Linked DNA regions of Homo sapiens. The protein of the gene in region 5 purifies or fractionates together with the protein of the main gene of each other region. This does not show direct contact. Each region holds a gene or a part of one and is shown on either strand. Other genes may lie near its edges.

Region 1 (3,521 bases), on a different chromosome or scaffold from region 5:
TGTCCGGGAGGTGGAGGCTGCAGTAAGCTGTGGTTTCTCCACTGCACTCCAGCCTGGGCAACAGAGCAAGACCCCGTCTTAAAAAGAAAAAGAAAAGAGAATGCAGGAGCCCCACGCAGCTGACGGATACGGCACTTGTTCCAACACATCTCCAGCATCACTGATGCCTGTGTGCCCAGAGTAAGTGTGGGTGCAGGAGAAACAGAACAGTGGCCGCCTAGGAGAGGCCCGCAAGGTCGGGCAGGACAGGCTCACTGCTCAATGAGCCCCCTTTTCCCAAATGGTGGGTGTGAATGGCCTATTCAAAACACATGGTAGGAATTTTGAAATCATCCCCCAAAATGGCACCAGTCATTGCATCAGGGCCATGGGATTATGGGTGCCCTTCATCCTGTCTCCATTTTCCTGGGGTCAGTTTCGCAGCCTCCAAGAGGAAGATAAGGGATGTCAGGGGAGGGATGAAGGGGCTGCCACTCACTGACGGACACCACGGTGGAAAGGCACCACTCATGCTCAGATGGTAAATCAAGTCATGGACTAAAAACCCTAAACTCCACCTGCAAGAAGGAGGCAACATCGCCCAGGGAGGGGCAGGTGGCCCCCATGGCCATGACACATATGCACAGTGATGTCTGTTCCCCAGTGAGCTTGTGCTCTTGGGATTTAAAGACCTCTTTTCTTTAAGGGGAAGGGAACCAGAGTGAATAATGATCTAGGGGGCTAGAGGATCAGGTGGGCACACAGCTGGGGCAAGGAAGAGGGACCCTCTACAGTCTGGCACCGACATCTCTTGAGCCAGAAGACCAGCAGGAACTGCAGTTACATCCTGGATGGGGAATCCCGGGACAGCAGGCCGTGGACGCAGGAAGATCTTTAGAGACAAGGGGTAGAGTGGAAACCCCAGGCCAATGGCCACCGAGAAGGTCTCCGAGCCAGGGGACAGCACCCCACCCCACCCACAAACACCAGGAGGAAGAGAATCACGTGCCGCCTTGTACAGGTGTGAAGCCATGCCTGGCCAAAACAAATGCTCTCCAGGAATCCCGATGAGACTGAGTGGTAGCAGGGCAGGTGGCCGAGAGGATGGGGACCGGGCACAACAGAAACCCCTGAGGTCACGTCACACACTGGCGGGGGTTCCTCTTCCACCAGCAGTTCCCGAGCTCCCACCATGGGCACAACAGAAGGCAGACAGGCATGCAGGGGTGGGGCCGTCTCGGATCGAGCGAGGGCCTCAAAGAATTGAAGTGAACAGCTGGAACATTCCATGAACGAGGGGACTGTTAGCAGTCGCCACTCAACACTGCGGGAGCGGGCAATGGTACCAGCCGAGGAAAGGAGGGATCGATATGAGTAGCGCTCGCTGTGGCTTTGAACCTCTACTCAGCAACAGAACATTTCCCAGCAGAAAGGCTGGGAGTGTGGTTAGGTGCCTGGGTCGGCCGCGGATAGAGCCTGGCCATGCCGCCGAAAGACCATCTACTAGAAAGCCCGGAAACTTTTACAACAGTCTCCACACAACAAGAGAGCTGCAATTTCTTTCTTTCTCCTTCTCCCTCTCCCTCTCCCTCCCCCTCCCCCTCCCTCTTTCTTTCTTTCTTTCTTTTTTTGAGACAGAGTCTTGCTCTTTCGCCCAGGCTGGAGTACAGTGGCATGATCTCGGCTCACTGCAGCCTCCTCCGCCCGGGTTCAAGCAACTCTCCTGTCTCAGCCTCCTGAGTAGCTGGGATTAAGGGTGCGCGCCACCACGCCCGGCTAATTTTTGCATTTTCAGTAGAGGCAGGGTTTCACTATGTTGGCCAGGCTGGTATTGAACTCCTGACCTCAGGTGATCCACCCGCCTCAACCTCCCAAAGTGCTGGGATCACGGGCGTGAGCCACCTCGCCCAGCCCAGATCTGCGATTTCGAGTGCGTCTTCCCCGCCCCATGTGCCATGAACCTAGGGCTTTAGAAACAGCGGGAGGGGCCAAGGCAGGTGGGCGAGGGGGTCAGTGACGCAGGAGCAGGGCTGCGGACAGGAGAGGCAGCAGGCTCAGAGACGGCTCTAGCCCAAGCTGGTTACCCCTCTGCTAAAACAGTGCAGCATATTTTTATTTTCACAGCTTACGTCTGTAAATGCCTAGAGGCGTACCACATCTTTAGACAACCTGCCGGCCACAATGACACATCAGGACATCCCGGGTCCCCGCCCTGCTGGCCCAGGCTTTGGGAACCTGCTTGGTCCAAGGGTCCGCTACTGGCCCGGCTGCCCTTACCCCGGAACTCGGCTAGCCGTCTGGCGGGCCACACCCTGCCCACCTGGGGGTGCTTCTAGGGCAGACACAGGAATAACTTTTTCAAGGAGAAGGGGGAGGTCCAAGCCTTTTATTCACAGTGGAACCCTGGCCTGGGCCTGCCAGGGGTTCCTGTGGGAAGCCTCAACTGCCCTCCAGACCCCTTCTCTCTGCCCTGCTATGTTGCCTGGCACGGACCTCAGGCAGGGAGCCCCAGACCGGCTGCCGCATGGAAGCCAAGGCCCCCAGGCCCTTGCTATTCGGAAGCTCAGGCCAGACTCTGGTCAGGCTCTGCCCCAACCCCCACAGAGCGGCTCGATTCCTCCCTTGCCCCAAAGACTGGGCCTGGCAGACACCAACTCAGGGTGCAGCAGGCCCGGCCTGCCTTTCACAGCCCCCATCTGGGAACCACCCACCCTCCTCCCTACTCCCAGAGGTGGGCAGGAAAGGCAGCTCTCACCCCGAAGCTCCCACGGCTGTCCTGCTGCCCACACACCCACACACCCGTCTAGGTTTCTCCAAGGCCACCAGGAGCTCATCACCCCTCCCCACAGGTCAACCCCATTTCTTTCTTTTTTTTTTTTTTTTGAGATGGCATCTCACTCTGTCGCCAGGCTGGAGTGCAACGGCACGATCTCGGCTCACCGCAACCTCTGCCTCCTGGGTTCGAGCAAATCTCCTGCCTCAGCCTCCCGAGTAGCTAGGATTACAGGCATGCACCACCATGCCCGGCTAATTTTTTTTTGTATCTTTAGTAGAGACGGAGTTTCACCATGTTGGTCAGGCTGGTCTTGAACTGCTGACCTCAGATGACCCGCCTGCCTCGGCCTCCCAAAGTGCTGAGATTACAGGCGTGAGCCACCGAGCCCAGCCAACCCCATTTCCTGAGGATTCAAACAAATCCAAAGGGCGGTGGCACAGGAGGCCTGGGGCTGTTGCTGAAAGAATCCAAGCTCTGGCTTGACTTTCTAGTGATTCAGCACCCACGCCTGTAAGACTCAAGTCCTACCTGCCTCCTGGAACAGCCACGAGGATCCAGCATGTCCAGATGTGAGGCACTTGTTCACCTGTGGAGCTGGACCCAGGGGTCAGATGCCAACTGAACAACAGCCCTCCAGGAGGCAGGGGCCCGGACTCCTAGGCCACAGTACTCACCAGCACCTTCCTCTTCTGCTCGCTGCCTGTGACCACGGAGACAGAGCGGACGATGGGCTTGGTGGTGGCGGCACTGCCAGGACGCCGGGACA
Region 2 (3,521 bases), on a different chromosome or scaffold from region 5:
ATTGATTTTGTATCCTGAGACTCCTGAAGTTGCTTATCAGCTTAAGGAGATTTTGGGCTGAGATGATGGGGTTTTCTAAATATACAATCATGTCATCTGCAAACAGGAACAATTTGACTTCCTCATTTCCTATTTGAATACCCTTTATTTCTTTCTCTTGCCTGATCGCCCTGGCCAGAACTTCCAACACTATGTTGAATAGGAGTGGTGAGAGAGGGCATCCTTGTCCTGTGCTGGTTTTCAAAGGGAATGCTTCCAGTTTTTGCCCATTCAGTATGATATTGGCTGTGGGTTTGTCATAAATAGCTCTTATTATTTTGAGATACGTTTAATCCAGGAAGTTTTTATAGTCAGATAAACCTGCTTTGAACTCAGTTGTATGGTCTTAGATGAGTTATCTAATGAATTTGAGTCTTAGTTTCCCCATCTGTGAAGTGGGATTAAAATATATGATCCTAGAAGTTATCTTAGGGACTAAGCATTATAACATGCCCAGAAGAGGAAGGGTTCTGTGCCACTGCAGAGATAAGAACTGGTACTGGCTCCTCTTGTCCCTTTCATTCCTTGCTGAAAAATAACCCAGGGTATAATCCCACCTCCTTCCCCCAATACATTTCTGTCTCTTTTGGGGTCCATAGGCCCAGTGCCTTGTGCCTGGTGCTGCTCCATCACAGCCCCCTACCTGCCCTCAGGCAGCCTCCCTGAGCTGCTCCTGTCCCTGGGGCAGGGCTTTGGTACTGGGGGCCATCTGGAGGCAACGGGCTTTGGGGTTACACAGGTGGCATTGAGGGGTGAGTGAGGGCTCACTCTGGCCATGGCTGGGGCCCATCCTTTGAGGAACCACCCCTGGCTCTCGCCCTGCCTGAGTGGTGGGGCCATACCATGAGGGCGTCGATGAGCTCGTCATCATGCCGGCCCTTCTCCACCAGGGTTCCCATCTGACTCTTGAGGGTCTTCATCTCACTTGACAGCAGCTTGTTCCGAGACCTCATGCCCTCGAACTTCTTTTTTAGCTCTTCAAGCTCTCTCTGGAGGACATCCCGTTCACTGGCAAGTTTCTGTAATTAGAAAGTGAGGGCATGGGCAGCAGGGCTGTGTGGGACCTTGGCCACATCTGCTCCCTGGCTCCTACTCAATGGCAAGGCCCGGGGCTGGGGGTGGGGGTGCTTGTTGAATGCCACAGAGCAAGTCACTAGAGCCAGGGCCCTGACTCCCAGCCCAGGCCTCTCAGGGATATCAGGTGGCCAGCAGCCTCCCACCCTTCCCCTAGCACATGACAGCACTAACCCATGACAGCACTCCTAACCTCAGCCTGAGACACAGACTTCCTAGCACATGAGAGGAAAGCCGCCAGCCAACTGCGTGTGTCCTCCAGAGAGCACAGCCAGTCCTACCCCTAAGCCCCTCCCCAAGCAGGGGAAAAGAGAAAAGCCATACTTTAGAAAAAGAGTGCTGGGCTAGGTTCCAACTGCAGCACCTTGCACCACCAGGAGCTAGAATGAGAAAGGAGGGTCTTTTCTCCCACTTCCTCCATGATTATTTGGCACAACCCCTGACAGCACCTTGCTTTGTCAGCTACCAACTGGAAACTCACATGCAGCACACATCTTCGGAGTCTCTCATTCAATCATCCCTTCATTCTCGAGGGTTTCCTGAGGGCCTACTATGGGTTTCCTGAGGTTTCCTACTATGGTTTCCTGAGGGCCTACTATGGGCTTAGTATTGTTATAGATGCTGGGGGACAGCAAAAAGCAAAACAGTCCTTGTCCTCAAGGAGCTGATAATCCTAATGGAGGAGACAGATAATGTCAAATAGTGACAAATGCTAATTTGAAAGTAGGAAACAGGAATAGCGAGAAGGATATGGTCAGGTAAGGCCTTTCTGAAAAGGTGGCATCTGAGCAGAGACTGAAGGAGATGAAGGGAAGAGCAAAGGCCCTGGGGTAGAAGGTGTGTGGCTGGAGCACAGTGAGTGAAGGGGCAGAGGTTAGATTAGGCAAACCCATAAAGACAAGATGGAGACATTGGGGAGGAGCTTGGGCAGTGGGTGACATCACCTGCTTGATCCTGAGGGTGAATTGTTGCTGGAAAAGTATTTTCATATCCTTGATGAAGTGAATTATAGAAATGCAAAACAAGTAAAACATGAATCTATAGGACACAAGCCCTTTGCAGGGAGGCAGCCATTACTCACCTGTTGCTCTCCTGCCTACACACTCCAGGCTCTTATGGGTGCCTGCCAGAGGGAATGCATGCAGGAAGCTGTTTCCTTCCACCCGCTATTGCAGCTTATGGTCAGCCCAACTGTTCAACATAATCTGTTCTGCACTAACATGTAAGTTCAAGCTAGGTGCATTTCAAACCCAGCATTTCCAAATCTCAACTCCCTTTCTCTTCTTGAACCCACCCTGTCTCCCTTACCCACCCACTATACTCCCTAGAAGTCCTTTATAACTCTTCCTCCTCATCTCTCTTCCAAGTCCAATCAGTCCTTGAGCCCTAGAAAGTCTGTCCTCACTGTCCCAGGTGTCTGGCCCTTCCATGACAGTCCACTATCTTGGCAAAGATCTTTGGTCATGTCTCCAGGATTACTATTCTGCCTTCCATTCCTCTTCCAACCCATTCCTCCTCTTGCTCCAACCATGTGACCTTTCCAAAATGCACAGCTGACCACCTCCCTCCACAAATTAAAACCCTGTCGTGGGCTCGGCGAATGGCTCACACCTGTAATCCCAGCACTTTGTGAGGCCGAGGCAGGTGGATCACCTGACGTTAGGAATTTGAGACCAGCCTGACCAACACAGTGAAACCCTGTCTCTACTAAATATATAAAAATTAGCCGGGCATGGTGGCAGGTGCCTGTAATCCCAGCTACTTGGGAGGCTGAGGCAGGAGAATCACTTGAACCCCGGAGGCGGAGGTTGCAGTAAGCCAAGATCACACCATTGCACTCCAGCCTGGGCAACAGAGCGAGACTCTATCTAAAAAAAAACAAAAACCGTTTGGTGGTTCTCCACAGCCTTCAAGATACAGGCCAAAAGTCCTGGCTGGCATACAAAGCCCAGCAGGCCCTGTCCACTTCTGTGGTCTCACTGTTTCCCTCCTCACAGCTGATGGTCTACAGCGCTGGGAGGTGCAATGTGGTCATGGTTACAGCATTCCTAACACAGGGCCTAACCCAGCGTTGGTGCTCACAGGCAAAAGTCTCCAGATGAAAAGGCAAGTCCTCACTGTTAGGTAGCTCACTGCCAGGGCCACTACGTGGGCCTGTTGTATGGCCTGCCTGCACCTCTTCATGCTGCTTCTGTTACCTTCTTTAAAGTGGCCCCTACTCCCTACTCTCATTGCAAGTTTGGGGAGGCTAACTCATCCCCTCAAACCTTGGGGCAGGTGTCTGAAGCTTGACCAATCAAAACACCCTGTACTCTTGGCTACAGTGATGGGCTCAAGGATGGTCACATAACCCAGGCTAGACCAAAGACACTCAATTCTGGGACTTTGTTGGAACTATTGGGAAAGAG
Region 3 (2,221 bases), on a different chromosome or scaffold from region 5:
TGTCATAATACTGTGTACTTCTTCACCTCCATGCCTCTTTCCTCATTGTGTTTTTCCACCTGAAGCACCATTTCCATTCGTTTTAGCACAAAGAAAATAGACTTTGACTTTCCCTTTCCCTGAGTATAGCTTTAAAACCTACCTTGGTTTCTGTCTTTAAATTCTTACATATGAATTGTCTCTGTTTTATGCTAATAAATTCTTTTGCAGTGAACTCTTATTTGCCAGTTGCTTCTAGCGTACTTGTCAATTCTCCAGGTATTTTAAGGCCCTCGAGAGTGGAATAGTGTCTCATGCTTGTCTTCTGGTAAACATACTATTTAATGTAAGACTAGGCAGACAGTAACTGTTGATTACTTGATTGAAAACTTGATGAATGTTACTTAACATTTTTTTCAAGCCTGTGTTTTTGGAATATTTAAGCCTTCTGTTTTTTTTTTTTTTTTCTCTTCTAGAAAGTCATTTTTTAAACAACACTCAACTTTGTGAACCCCTGAAGATTTTTTGACCGTTCCAAGTCTTAATGCCACACCACTATTCCAGCGAATTTATGCTACAACTGGTAACAATGACCAGAAGCCTGAAGAATTAAAATGCCAACACCAAACCTTTCCTTACCAGCTCTGGTCTATATTGCTCCCATGCATTTAATATATTATTTTGTTTTATAACCACTTCTAAATATTCTCAGTTCTTTCTTTTTGTTGTTGTTAATTAAGGGGTTTTGGTTTTGTTTTCTGTTTACTTTGTGTGCAACTACCTGCTTTTAATGACTCACTTTGATCAAATGACAGTGAACAAAGCCAGCCCAAGCTGGTAAGGTGCTGTTCACTTGAACAGGTGCTGTTGCGCAGAAAGGAAACTCTGTGACTAATTTAGATAGTGGCTTTCCTTCTTCTGGATTCTTTTCATTGAATTCTCACAGTAAATATTTACGGAGTTTTCAAATTGCAGCAAATATACTGTATGAGAAAATATTAATACAGATTAAAAGCCTTTCTTACATCTTGAAAATTTTCTAATATTTGAGAATTTCACAGGGATGTTTTTTATATTGGACCCTTTTGACTTTCCAGTCCTGTGACTTTCTACTTTTAGTAGAGAGTCAGAATCTCTGGACTGGAGAATAATGAAGAAGTTCACTGACTGTGCACTGTGCTTAGAGACCCTGCCGCACCACAGTGCCAATGCTTGTCAGACACATGCCCTTCGGCAGCATTCCAGAACAGGAGGGAAGAGAAAGAGAAAACTTTCTTCCCTTCTACTAAAAGATTCAGGCAGCTTAAAACCTTAGTGCTTTCTTTCTTAACATACCCACATTTCAATTCTTTCCATTATTTGAACACTTGGGTAGAACTCTTGCTTTGTATTAAACCTCTTTGTCTACACATGTAAAACTTACCTTTTGTTATTGAGCAGGCCTATCTCTTTCAGATAGTTTTATGATTCACACAGGTTTGAGGATGCTGGGGAGAGGGGGAGGGGGCTGTGGTGGTGTTCTGTTGGTTACAAGAAAGTTATACCATTTAAAGCTGGCACCAGAGACCCGATAGGGACTTATTAACTATATTGAACATTTTTTCCTTTGCCTTTGACCCTATGTATAGTTACGATGCCAGATTAGATTTATAGCAGCCTCAAGTTGTATTAAATGATATTTTGCTTCCTGTAATACTATTATAAAATAAAGTTTGTTTATTCTCTAAACTTGTCACTTCTCTTTTTCTAAAGGGTTAAAAAAACAAACTTGAGTGATATTTTTCATCAGAAGTCTTAGTATTTTGTGAAAAGTAGCATTTCAAAATCTGTTTTCAGCTCTTCTGTAATTTGATGATGCTGCCAACATCACTATTTGAAACGGTGAAAGCGACGTTGAAAGTTTGTAAATCTAATGTTGAGAGTGCCAGATTCCTTCTGCCTGGTTACATAATCCATTCCAGCTTTTACGAATTCTCCGAGGGATATTTTTGCTTGTTTTCTTTGTGCATTTTTCATTTTGTTTTCAGGAAATATTTTAGCTGTACCATCTGAATCTTGCTCCTCTGCTTCATGTCCTTCTTTACTTTGTGTCCACTGGCCCTCTGTATATCAGGCAAACTAGGCCACTGAGGGGCTGCATCCCAGTCTGATTGGGATGCTTTCTTGTGAAACTTTTGTTGGGGCACACCAGGTTATGGTGTTATTATAGAGCAAATAACCAACAGGGTACATTTCTTGTAAA
Region 4 (3,521 bases), on a different chromosome or scaffold from region 5:
AAAATAGAGATGATATTTTATAGGATTATGAGGATTAAATGTGAAACAGTATAGTACTTGACATACAGTAAACTCTTGAAACATCTATTACTGTTATTACTGTTACACACAAAACAGTATAACACTAGAAAAATCAAAGGAATACAGTGTTTGTGAAAATAGAGATATCATTGTCAGACTAGGTTATTTGTAAGTATGTAGGAACTATATCTTCATCCATGAAATCATTATTTTCAGTGAGTACTCTCTCTTAAGACTCAGTTTAGCCTACATATAGGACAGCTAATTTAAATACCTCTGTTGTTTATGCCTTGTATTATTTTTGCTAAATCATAAATGGCTTCTACTTTAATATTGCAAAGCATATTGCAGAAATACCCTTTCAAAAGACATGTTGAGGAATAAAGTCTTTGGAAAGACATATCGCGAATTCCATCTGCCAATTCTTAATATTTTGTTCAGCTTGTTTTGTGTATTCTCAAGATTTTAAAGTAACTGCTAATGTAAAACATTACTAAAACATAAAAAGATTTATTTCATAAATGCAAATTGAAGCAGACAATTTATTCTTAAGAGACTGAACAATATCAAGAAAAAGAATCCTCTAAAATATGTGATACCAAATTCATGGTGTTTGACAATGGACAAACAGTATATACAAGGAAAGCACATTGGAGAAAGGGCTTTCTGGTTATTCAACCCCTCAAATTGGCAAGAAATTATTTGGCTTACCAGGGCTCTTTTGCCTGAAAATTAAATACAGGTAAAGGAACGTAATATATTCCTATGTTTGAGCCAATTTATAGCTACTTATTACTTGTGGATAGATTTAGCTAACGAATTATTAAATGTGAGTGATTTTGTTAATGTGCAACAGTGCACATGAATGGTTTGTACTTCATTTAAGAAGAGTCTAGTTAGCCAATTTTAGAATATTTCATTTCTTTTTTTTTTTTTTTTTTGAGACGGGGTCTTGCTCTGTCACTCAGGCTGGAGTGTAATGGTGCCATCTCTGCTTCAGCCTCCTAGGTTTAAGCGATCCTCCCAAGTAGCTTAAGCGATCCTCCCAAGTAGCTGGGACGACAGACACATGTCACAACACCCAGCTAATTTTTGTATTTTGGTAGAAATGGAGTTTTGCCGCATTTCCCAGGCTGGTCTCGAACTCCTGAGCTCAAGCAATCTACCCACCGTGGCCTCCCAAAATGCTGGAATTGCAGGTGTGAGCCACTGTGCCTGGCCTAGAATATTTGTTTTGACATGAATTTTATTTAGCTTCTCAATTCTTAGGACAGTATTTAAGTTCTAGATAACTTTAATATAAATAATCTTTTATAATTTTGCACACACTCATCATTATGTGGTAAACGTACATGCGTGCTTTTTCAACAACTATTGAATGAAATGTTTCATTCAAGAATTCTCATTCAAATAGCTTATATTTTTATAGTAGAAAAAAGGCATGCATTGAAAATTCAATTTTCGGGTTTTTTGTTTGTTTGTTTGTTTGCCATTTGTTTTCATGCATTTTTAGTAAATCATTAAAGAACAGTGCAAGGCCAGGTGCCGTGGCTCACAACTGTAATCCCAACACTTTGGGAGGCCGAGAAGGGAAGATCTCTTGAGCCCAGTAGTCCAAGACTAGCCTGGGCAACACAGACCTTGTCTCTACAAAAAAATTAAAAAATTAGCCGGACATGGTGATGCATGCCTATAGTCCCAGCTACATGGGAGGCTGAAATGGGAGGATCACTTGAACCCAGGAGTTGAAAGCTGCAGTGAGCTGTGATTGTGCCACTGCACTCTAGCCTGGGCAACAGAGTGAAACTTTGTCTCTAAAAAAATTTTTTTTAATATTAAAAAAAAGAACAATGCTAATAGGCATACTGAGCCTTTTTCTATTAATTTTTCTCATACTAATTTTTCATTTATCACTTTTTAAAGTGACTTAGGTTATACGGTTGAAACTACATGTCTTAATTTGTAGTTAAACCCCCATGGTTAAATAATTTTTTTTTTTTTTTTTTTTTTTTTTTGAGACAGGGTCTCACTTGTACCCAGGCTGGAGCGCAGTGGCATGCACGATCTTGACTCACTGCAGCCTTGACCTCCTGGGCTCAATCCATCCTCCCACCTTAGTCCCCCAAGTAAGAGGGACTACAGGTGCTTACCACCATGCCCGGCTAATTTTTTGTAGAGATAGGGTTTCATCATGCTCCCCAGGCTGGGCTCAAACTCTTGAGCTCAGGCAATCCGCCCGCCTCAAGCCTCCCAAAGTGCTAGGATTATAGGCGTGAGCCACTGTGCCCAGCCAGTAATATCCTTAGTTTGATGTATTTGGCTTATAAGTTCGGTACTGAATGGGGCTTTGAAGGATGGCCTGTTTCTCACTAAGCATGTAAAATGTTTAGCCCTGTCATCTGCTGTCCACTCAGCAGCGAGAGGGATTCTTTAAAAATACTAAGTCAAATGGGTTCAGAATTCTCCAGTGGCTTCTCATCTCATTGCTTAATTGCCTGTACAGATCTGGCTCTTTGTTGCCCCGCCTGTGATCTCTTCTCCCACCACTGTCCCTCACTTTCTCTGTTCTGTTCAGTGGACCTCCTGTATTACATAGTATGCACTCACACTCGTCACTATTTTTTTCTGTGCTTGCCTTCCTCTGTTACATGTATTCATCTCCTGCCTCTGATATGCAAGTTCCTTGAGGGCAGGAACTTTGTTTTGTTTACTGCTGTATTACTAACTCTTAGAACAATTATGACACATAGTAGGCGCTCAAATATTTTTGAATGAATACATTAAATTTGGTAAGTTGATATTTATTACAGAGGATATCCTTTAAATCCAGATATTTCTAATAATAAAAGCTAATAGTTATTGAGCATTTGCCATGTGCCAAGAACAAAGGTGACAACATTGTTATGTTCAATTTTCTTATGAGGAAATTGGGCACAGAATGCCAAGAGTGTGCCACAGATAGCACATCTAGAAGATAGTCTAGATTTAAATCTAGATGATATACTTTCAGAATATGTATTTAGCAGTTTATGCTAATCTTTTACAAGACATCATGTAAACAAAAAAATTGTTATACAGGCATACCTCAGAGATATTACAGGTTTAGTTCCAAACCACTGCAATAAAGTGAATATTGGAATAAAGCAAGTCATACAAATTTTTAGTTTCCCAGTTCATATAAAAGTTATGTTTCCACTATGTGGTAGTCTATTAAATGCACAATGGTATTATGTTTAAAAAAGTACATACCTTAATTTAAAAATATCTTATTGCTAAAAAGTACAGCCATCTGAGCTTTCAGCAGGTATTTATCATTCTGCTGGTGGAAAATCTTGCCTCCATGTTGATGGCTGCTGACTTATCAGGGTTGTGGGATTGCTGAAGTTTGGGGTGGCTGTGGCAATTTCTTAAAATAACAATGAAGTTTTCTGCATCATAGATTCTTCCTTTCACAGATGATTTCTCTGTAGCATGCAATGCTGCTCGATAGCATTTTACCT
Region 5 (3,521 bases):
AGGGGGAGACTCCATCTCAAAAAATAAAATAAAATCTAATATCAGAAAATACAATATTGTGAGGCAAAAAAGATGATCCTTGAAACTCCAGGTAAGGGATTTTTAACCTTTTTAGAGTCCTTGAGCCTTTGAGAATCTAATGAAATTTCTGAGCCTTCTGCAGATAAATGAATAGTCCCAAAACCTTTTGCAAGTTCATTTCAGTGGCTCCCAAATTACCACCCCCCAGGCCCATCCACAGATCTCTTTTCTCAGAGGCCCAAGGGCAATGGCGTAGGCCCTAGACCTCCTGACAGACACCTCTCTCTAGATCACAGCTCTTAACTTCATTTGGGAGAAGAGTGCTTTGGAAGGGCTGATGAATTCGGGGACCCCCTTCCCCTGGAAAATTCACATTCTGGCAATTGTGCTTTCATTCTCTGATGGTTCATAAGTCCAGGTTAATAATCTCGATCTCGTCCGTGTGCGTTGGCTCACGCCTGTAATCCCAGCACTTTGGGAGGCCGAGGAGGGTGGATCATTTGAGGTCAGCTCGAGACCGGCCTCGCCAACATGGTGAAACCTCGTCTCTACTAAAAATACAAAAATTAGCTGGGCGTGGTGGCAGGTGCCTGTAATCCCAGCTACTCGGGAGGCTGAGACAGGAGAATCGCTTGAACCCGGGAGGCAGAGGTTGCTGTGAGCCAAGATCATGCCATTGCACTCCAGCCTGGGTAACAGAGCAAGATTCTGTCTCAGAAAAAACAAATAAATAAAAAATAATAATCTCGATCTTGCTGCAAACAAATTGCCGCATATCCCACATCCCCTGACCCCAATGCAGTGCGTGGCAGCACTGGCCCCGCCCCACTGGGTGTTCTAAACCCCGCCCATCAACCCCACCCCCTCCGGCTCCCAGAACCTATCAGCGGCGACACCGTCCGGGTTACCAAGGCGTAGGAGGCACCCACGGAACTGAACACCTGAGGAGCCGCACAGCATCACCGCCCCCACTCGTGGTCCCCAACTCCCGGGAGGAGACCGCACAGAGGAAGGGGGCCCGCCACACCGCATCCCCGCCGCCAACTCCCCTTTCCCCACTGCTCGGCAGAAACCCCCCATACCCACCCCGCGAAGAGCAGCCCCTTTCGGCATCCCATTGCCTTGTCCTTAGCCCCCACCCCGCCCTGATCCCAGACACTGAGCCACCGAATACTCTGCCTAAACTCAATTCCCCTTGCACACTTACACCTCTCTCACCTCCACAAACTTCACCCGCTGCCCGGCCCCTTCCCCTCCTCTAGGCATGTCCTAAGTGCTCAGTAACTGCTGATGGAATAAATCCCACACCCGTGCCAGCTCCACACGGCCTCCCTGACCCCAGCTGCCCGTCACTTGTCCCCCAGATGGCCACGGAATTCTGGACTCCCCTTCCCCTCCTCTCTGCAGAACCTCCCACTCCACATATTCCAGCCCAACCCTCATGCTACATTCCCCGGAAACCAGCCCCCTCTCTCCCGTCCAAAGCCCCTTCATTCCATCCTGCTCTCCCAGATTTGGGGGCAGGGAGGCAGCCGCACTCTCCTCCCTACACCAGCCACCCACGGTCTCCTAGGGCTCCCGCATATTCAACTTCAATGCACCCCGTTATTCCAACTGCATTCTTCCCGCATATTTGCTCAAGGTTCTGCTCCACACATCCCACTTTCAGCCTGTATTCCATCACTCCCATATTTCACCTGGATTCTGTTCCCTCCCAAATTGCTTGTAACCCCACCCCCAACCCCCACTCCACCCGCACACATATTTTCCACCTCTCTTCCCTTTAGAGAGCCCTCTCTGAACAACCCCTCCTCTCCACTGACCCCACCACCACCGCCACTTCTAGGATTCCCCGGACCCTGAGCCCCCTCTCCCCTCCCGCCGCTGACCCTGTCCCTCTACCTGCATCCTCCATCCTTGCTTCGGAATGACCAGTGGCTCATCCTGGTGGCTGATTTCATTCCAGTCCTGAGCCTCTCCCAGTTCCTCTTCTCAGCCTCTGCCTCCTTCCTGACCTCACGCATCCCAGCGGTGCCTTCGAGGCCCCGCCCTCACCAACCCATGACGTCACCACCCCATCCCTGCGAGCACTGTGCGGCTGCCCTCCAGGCCCCATCCTGGCCCACACACCTGACCCACTTCTCGGGCCTCATGACATCATGGCGCTGGCACACTTACACCCAGTGTTTCAGCCCCCAGCTCTCTCCCTCTCATCATTCACTAGGATGACCCCTTTCCTTTCCAGCGTTACATCACCACCCCTGGCTCCACCTTCCAAATGGCTCTCCCCAGATAGCTCACAGATTTCACAGCTCTTACCCCGGGGCCGGAGCTGAAAACTCTCCACGCTGGGCTCACCAAAGACAAATCTACATCACTACCTCCCATACCAGACACGGGCAAATCACTGCCCTTGGCAGCCCACACCTGATGGCTGTTTCCCCACACTCTGCAGCTCCCCACCACCGCCAACACATATTCCAGCCCAGCCATACCCTAGATGGGCTCTCTCCTGCAGCAGCCCTCCGCCCCACATTCACACGCGTGGCCTGGCCTGGATGACCCCCTTCCCGACCCCATTCTGACCTCACCTCCCCACCACGTGGGTGAATTGAGGCTGGATAGAACCCCCCCTTCACTGCCCCAGAATACAGACCAAAGCCTTCCACATTGTCCCCATAGACTGTAGAGACAGAGAAGCCCTCTGGGGAACCAAGCAATGAAATCTCTACGGTGCACACTGCGGCACCCCAGTTCCCCCTGGGGCATCAACTCCCTCTCCCACTGTCTCTCAAAGGCAAACTTTTGCCTTAGATAAGGACCATGCACACTTATTAACCCAATGAATGACTCACCCTAAATTCTGCTCTCTGGTGGGTATTATAACCATCCCCATTATACAGAGGATGAAACTGAGGCTTGTCTAGGATCCCACCATGAAAGACAGAAACATTCGTCTTCCTTCCCCTTACCCAGCTGACCTTCCCTGACCACCTCCTGTTTCCTCCCAGAACTAACCCAAATGCGGCCTCACACCTTAAGCATGGCACATGCTGCAGGCTGGGTACTTCTGGGTTCAGATTCCAGCTGCCTTTCTCCTTGGTGTGTCCTTGGGCAAAGTACTTGCCCTCTCTGGGCCTTCCCCCATCAGTAAAGCGGGATAATAAGAGCTCCTACCTTATAGGGTTGTTGTTGAACTAAATTATTTAGTGTATATAAGGTGCTTCAAACAGTGGCTGGCACTCCCTGTTACCATCTGTGTGATCTGTTGATTATTTGACAGACCAGGAGCCCGTGAGGGCAGAGCCATTTTAATCAATCTTGTATCTTCAGGGACTGCTTGTGAATTTAACGGGAGATGCCAGGGAATGGGGTTCTAGACACTGGGGATACAGCCAAGGTTTTCTCCCCTCGGCTCATTCCCTGTCATCCTCCAGGTCTCAGCTCCAATCCCCTCTCCTGCAGGAAGCCCTCCCTGACTCCCAGGCTGGGTCAGGAGC

Evidence for each region.
Region 1: the proteins of CCDC61 (region 5) and CEP131 purify together in Homo sapiens (co-immunoprecipitation; one study listed by IntAct). This does not show direct contact.
Region 2: the proteins of CCDC61 (region 5) and CCDC13 purify together in Homo sapiens (co-immunoprecipitation; one study listed by IntAct). This does not show direct contact.
Region 3: the proteins of CCDC61 (region 5) and EPB41L2 purify together in Homo sapiens (tandem affinity purification; one study listed by IntAct). This does not show direct contact.
Region 4: the proteins of CCDC61 (region 5) and CLINT1 purify together in Homo sapiens (tandem affinity purification; one study listed by IntAct). This does not show direct contact.

What each region holds. Positions count from the first base shown.
Region 1 is NC_000017.11:81,216,451-81,219,971, forward strand, and holds part of CEP131 (centrosomal protein of 131 kDa), read right to left. Parts: coding exon 3,430-3,521; intron 1-3,429. UniProt on the Homo sapiens protein: Component of centriolar satellites contributing to the building of a complex and dynamic network required to regulate cilia/flagellum formation.
Region 2 is NC_000003.12:42,738,753-42,742,273, forward strand, and holds part of CCDC13 (coiled-coil domain-containing protein 13), read right to left. Parts: intron 2,336-3,521; exon of another isoform or gene 2,223-2,335; intron 1,059-2,222; coding exon 882-1,058; intron 1-881. UniProt on the Homo sapiens protein: Required for primary cilia formation and promotes the localization of the ciliopathy protein BBS4 to both centriolar satellites and cilia.
Region 3 is NC_000006.12:130,838,833-130,841,053, reverse strand, and holds the end of EPB41L2 (band 4.1-like protein 2), read left to right. Parts: intron 1-455; 3' UTR 456-1,707; downstream 1,708-2,221. UniProt on the Homo sapiens protein: Required for dynein-dynactin complex and NUMA1 recruitment at the mitotic cell cortex during anaphase.
Region 4 is NC_000005.10:157,849,128-157,852,648, reverse strand, and holds part of CLINT1 (clathrin interactor 1), read left to right. Parts: intron 1-3,521. UniProt on the Homo sapiens protein: Binds to membranes enriched in phosphatidylinositol 4,5-bisphosphate (PtdIns(4,5)P2). May have a role in transport via clathrin-coated vesicles from the trans-Golgi network to endosomes. Stimulates clathrin assembly.
Region 5 is NC_000019.10:45,998,460-46,001,980, reverse strand, and holds part of CCDC61 (centrosomal protein CCDC61), read right to left. Parts: intron 1-3,521. UniProt on the Homo sapiens protein: Microtubule-binding centrosomal protein required for centriole cohesion, independently of the centrosome-associated protein/CEP250 and rootletin/CROCC linker.